Regions from separate parts of the Homo sapiens genome. Here region 2 is linked to region 1. The links come from fine-mapping of genetic effects on gene expression. A gene starts in region 1. The other region holds a variant in brackets. All regions are shown on one strand. Distances are from middle to middle. Region 1 holds the start of PDE8A (phosphodiesterase 8A). Region 2 has its middle 160 kb from the start of PDE8A.

Region 1 (2,500 bases):
TTGTTCTGCTGAATGCTTCAAAAATCGCGTTTCACAGTATTTTCTAATTACATATGCTTTAAATACAGTATGTATGCTAATAAACGTGGACCTCAAATACATGTGCAATGAAGCAAAGCTGATGTTCCAGATTACATTCTAGCAGTCCCGAAGAAAATGGTAACCTGCAACTGCATGTGCAAAGCTGACAGAGGGAAAAGAGTGGTGAGGCCAGTCGCCCTTCCCTTTCTACCACAGGAAAAGAACAAAGTTCACACTGATTTAACATTGCAGGGGCGCGCCAGAATATCCTGGGGGTTTCCCTCAAACACCCGCTCTTGGAGAGGAAATTGATGCAAGCGCCTCAGTCAACTTCACATCGGGCCCCGCCGCTCCGGGAGTCGGATGTGTCCAAAAAACCGACGCCGCGACACAGGCGGCGTCCTAATCGCAACCCTAGGAAATCAGGGTCGCGGGACCTGGGTCGGTCCTTCTCTGAACGCTGCCCCGGCAAGGCGGGAGACTGGCGTCAATCAGAACCATCCAAAGCGGGACAAGAGGGCACCGAGGCCGGGTGGGGGGGACCCCGCCCGGCCCCTGCGGGAAAGTTGCTTACTGGCCGGGCCCGAGTTTCGCGGCGGCCCCAGAGTGCCCGGCGCCCCTTACCTTCTTGCCGCTGCCGTCGCGAAGCTCCGACTCCAAGAGGCCGGCGCCGCGGGTCCGGGGCAAGGCGGCCGTCTTCTGGCCCTGCGGGAGGCGCGGCCCGCCGGACGACAGCGGCGGTGCCGCGGGGCTAGGCGCGTCCTCGGCCACCAGGCGCTCGGAAATGTGGATGCTCGGGGCACAGCCCATGCTGGCGGCGGCGCCGCGGACACGCTGGCGGGTAGCCGCGATCCGGTCAGCAAACGGCCCACCCGGCGCCTCCGGGCCGCCGCGGGCGCCGTGTCATCGCCGCCTGGGCGGGCGGCGGCGAGCGCGGATCTCGCGTCAGGAAACGCGGCCGCCCCTTTTATCGCGGTGCGGGCGCTGCGGCGGCGGCGGCTGCGGTGGGAAGGGGGCGCTTAGGCGGGTGGCGTGCCGAGGCCGCCCCTCCGAACATGCCCTTCCTGAGGCAGGAGCCGACGGCCGCCTCTCACATCGCCGGGCTCGCCTCGGCCGCGCTTCCGGGGAAATAGGGGGAGGAGATTTGCGCTCTCCTTACCCAGGAGCGGCTGAGTCCACGCCGCGCGAGCCACGCTGCCCTCGCCGAGCTGCGGCACGACCCCCGGGGGAGGCGAGCTCCCGGCCGCGCCCGGCCCCGCTCCCGCCGCCGCCGCCGCCGCCTCCCCGGCTCCAGACTCCGCCTAGATGTGGACACCCACGCCGCTCCGCCCGCTGGGCCGCCGCCTCGCGGAAAAGCCCCCCCAGGCCGAGTGCCGGTGGGGTACAAGGCTAGCCTTAGACGCTCCCGCTGGCCGGGGTTTAGGCGCGGGGTCCGAGGGAAACCCCTCGGAGCGGCCGGGCCACGTCCGCCAGGGTAGGGAGGGGAGCAGCTCGGCTCCAGCGGGGCCTGGGGCCGCACCGTCGAGAAGCGCAGAAACGGCTGCGCGCACCCAGGAGTTGCTGGCGGTACGGCTCCGGCTCCGGCTCCGTGATCCGGGCCGGGTTTTGCCGGCAGCGTGCCGCGCCGAGCCCCCAGCGGTGACCTCCAGCGGGTGCTGGCGTCAATGCAAAGCAGCTGGGGCGCCCGCCACCTCCTCCGGACGCCGCCCGCAACTGAGCATGCGCGGCGACGACAGGCGGGGCGCCCGACTGGGCTACCCAGAGAAGGAAAGAGACTTGCCCAGGGACACACAGCCACCTCCGTCCCGAGGCCACCAGAAGCCCGACCGCCAAATTCGAATTCCGGCTCCGTAACTTAGCGGCTACTTGACCTCGGTGGGGTCACCAAGTGTGAGCCCTGGAGCTGTTACCCAGAAAAGAGGCCGGTGGAAAGACCTCCTTTGGGGGTAGTGAAAGTCAAACTGGGGCGCCGCGCGCCGGGTCCCGGGTGGGTGGGGCCTGGGCGTCCGCGAGAAGCCGCAGCCCACGTGCGCTCCCTCGCAGGCCAAAACCTGGCGCGCCACGCCTCGGATTACACAGGCGCCGGGGCGGCCGCAAAGCTACAGCACCGGGCAGGCTGCAGGCGCCCGTCCTCCTCTCATTTTAACCAAAGTGCTAGTCGGGCGTCCGAGACCCCAAAGGCAGAGCCAGGGGAAGGGGCGTACGCATTGCAGGCCTGGGGCCCATGAGGACCCCGGACACGCACACAGCCACTAGCTTGCTGTGTGAACTGGGCCAGTCACTTAACTTCTTGGTGGCTGGGGCTCCTCCCCCACCAGCTGGAGGGCGGTGTCTCTGGGCGTCCATCACGTATCCTGTAGCGGGCTGCCTCGGACCCCCGCCAGTCTTCCCGCCCTCCCTGGGCTCCCGGTTTGCGGAGACCCTGGCGCGGTGCAGCCGGCTCCTTCCTGTCCTCTCCGACCGTCCACACCTTTCCTAG
Region 2 (3,012 bases), 160 kb before region 1:
GTTTACTTCTGATAAAAGAGTGTTGCAATCTCCCAGTGTAATAGTGGATTAATCTTTTCTCCTTACAGTTCTATCAGTTTGGGGCTCATGTAGTTTGATATTATGTTGTTTGGTGTATACATGTTAGGGATTATTATGTCTTGGAGAAATGATCTCTTTATCATAATCTAATGACCTTCTTTATCCTTGATAACTTTCCTTGCTTTTAAGTCTCCTCTGTTTGCAATTAATGTAACTACTCCTTTCTTTTTTTTTTTTTGAGACAGAGTCTCGCTCTGTCATGAGGCTAGAGTGCTGTGGCGCGTTCTTGGCTCACTGCAACCTCTGCCTCCCAGGTTCAAGCGATTCTCCTGCCTTAGTCCCCCTGAGTAGCTGGGACTACAGGTGTGCAACACCACGCCCAGCTAATTTTTGTATTTTTAGTAGAGACAGGGTTTCACCATGTTGTCTAGGATGGTCTTGCTTTCTTTTGATTAGTGTTAGTGTGGTATATTTTCTCCATCCATTTAATCTATGTGTTTTTCATTTTTTGGGTTTTTTTTTTTTTTTTTTTTTTTTTGAGACAGAGTTTCGCTCTTGTTGCCCAGGCTGGAGTGCAATGGCATAATCTTGGTTCAACAACCTCTGCCTCCTGGGTTCAAGCGATTCTCCTGCCTCAGCCTCTCGAGTAGCTGGGATTACAGGCATGTGTCACCACACCCTGCTAATTTTGTACTTTTAGTAGAGACAGAGTTTTTCCATGTTGGTCAGGCTGGTCTCGAACTCCTGACCTCAGGTGATCCACCTGCCTCTACCTCCCAAAGTGATAGGATTACAGACCTGAGCCACCGTGCCCGGCCTGGCTTTTTTTTAAAAATGGGTGTGGCTCTCACTATGTTGCCCAGGCTGGTCTCAAACTCCTGGCCTCAAGTGATCCTCCCACCTTGGCCTCCCAAAGCCCTGGGACTACAGGCATGAGCCACCACATTTGGCCTCAAATATTTCTTCTGTTCTTTTCTTTCTGTATTTTCCCTCTGCTATTCTTATAACATGTATATTACAACTTTTTAGCTCCATAGTCCTTGGATATTTTGCTCAGTCCTATTCTCTTTAATTTTCAGTTTTGTAGGTTTCTATTTGACATGTCTTCAAGCTGAGAGATTCACTCCTAATTCATGTCCAGCCTATTAATGAGCCCATCAAAAGCACTTTTCATTCATTCGCAGTGTTTTTGCTATAAACAAAACAGTGCTTTCCTCCTCTCTTTGCTGGAAGTATGAGGGAATTTTCCTGTTATATTTACTGTGAGAACTGTGAAGCTCTTGGAGGTAAAATTCACGAAAGTGCAGGCGGGGGGCACCCCTTATAACTGGGTTCCCCAGGAGTTTTAATTCTTAGACTGTCCACATTGAGCCTCCACCAATTCTTCAATTACTGACAGGTTCTTCTACCCTGGCACTGGTTCCCATGGTGGTTTCCACTCATGAATCTCTGCTCCAGTAAGATATAATTTCCTGTATTTGCCTGCTGGTCTCTCCTATCTTAGGGGCAGCAGTTTGACTTGT[AT/T]CCTCACCTTTCTTACAGATCTAGGAAGAGCTGTTGATTTTTCAGGCTGTTTAGCTTTTTACTTGTTAGAATGAAGTGGCGACTTTCAAGTTCCTTACATGCGGATCTGGAAAATAAGTCTCCTCATTCTTTTTTACAGTTGCATAGTATTCTGTTGTATGGTCATACCTGTAACTTGTTTACTTACTCTTCTTAAATGATAGACAATTTGTTTCCAGTCTTTTACTAATATAAGTAGTAAATAATAAATAATTTTGTAGACTATTATTTCCCACGTGTAAATATCTTTAGGCTAAAATCCTGGAAGTAGAATTGCCAGGTCACACTGCATGTACATTTGCAATTTGGATAGATTTGGCAAATTTGTAATTAGGTTGTACTAATTATACTCACCTGCCATGTCATTTCCACTCATTCTTCTTTTTTTTACCACCCACCCCCGCCCCCTCCCCGAGAGAGTCTTGCTCTGTCACCCAGGCTGGAGTGCAGTGGCGCCATCTCGGCTCACTGCAACCTCTGCCCCCTGGGTTTAAGCAATTCTTCTGCCTCAGTCTCTGGAGTAGCTGTGATTATAGGTGCCCGCCACCACGCCTGGCTAATTTTTATATTTTTAGTAGAGACAGGGTTTCACTATGTTGGACAGGCTGGTCTCAAACTCCTGACCTTATGATCTGCCTGCCTTGGCCTCCTAAAGTGCTGGGATTACAGGCGTGAGCCACTGCAACCGGCCCACACATTCTTATTAACATACTATATTATCAAACTTTTTATTCTTTACTCATCTTAAAGGTGAAAAATATCTCAAATTGGTTCTAATTTGCATTTGATTACTATCAGTGTAGTATAAACTTTAAGAACCTTTTGTTTTTCTACAAACTTTCTGTTCATAACATTTTTAAATTTTTTCTACCGTACTGTTCATTTTCTCATATAAAAATTTTAAAAATCAGTATTATGGAAGTAAGCTTTTATAAAATGAATTATAAACATTTCCTTGCTTTTGACATATTGTCATTTGTCACATAAAATATTTTGATTTTTATTGTTGATTTTTTAATTGTGTTTTCATATGGCTTCTGTTTTGTGTACTACTTTCTCTGCTTAAAATATGTGCCTATAGTCCCAGCTACTCAAGGAGGCTGAGGTGGGAGAACTGTTTGAGCCTGGGAGGTAGAGGCTGCAGTGAGCCTGATTGCGCCACTGCACTCCAGCCTGGGCAACAGAGACCTGTCTCAAAAGAAGAAAAAATATCCTAGCTGCCTTGGCCCTAGCTGCCTTTAAAAAATCAATGTACTTCACCACTAGACTTAATAAATATTAACATTTTTCTGTGTCTACCTTTTTTTTTTTTTTTTTTTTTTTTGAGATGGAGTCTTGCTCTGTCACCAGGCTGGAGTGCAGTGGTACGATCTCAGCTCACTGCAACCTCTGCCTCCCGGGTTCAAGCGATTCTCCCACCTCGGTCTC

What was found. PIP is the estimated chance that this variant, and not a neighbour inherited with it, causes the effect.
Region 2: its variant is fine-mapped to the expression of PDE8A in whole blood (TOPMed, PIP 0.99).

What each region holds. Positions count from the first base shown.
Region 1 is chr15:84,980,494-84,982,993 of GRCh38, reverse strand. It overlaps PDE8A (phosphodiesterase 8A), which reads right to left and starts at 1,138. Exons shown (of 22, transcript NM_002605.3): 1 at 646-1,138. The coding sequence starts at 831. RefSeq lists an enhancer at 957-1,489 and silencers at 1,217-1,706, 2,027-2,076.
Region 2 is chr15:85,143,128-85,146,139 of GRCh38, reverse strand. No RefSeq gene overlaps it. Among named protein-coding and RNA genes, the nearest start is that of PDE8A, 160 kb to the right of the region's middle. The variant AT/T (reference allele first, on the strand shown) is at 1,545.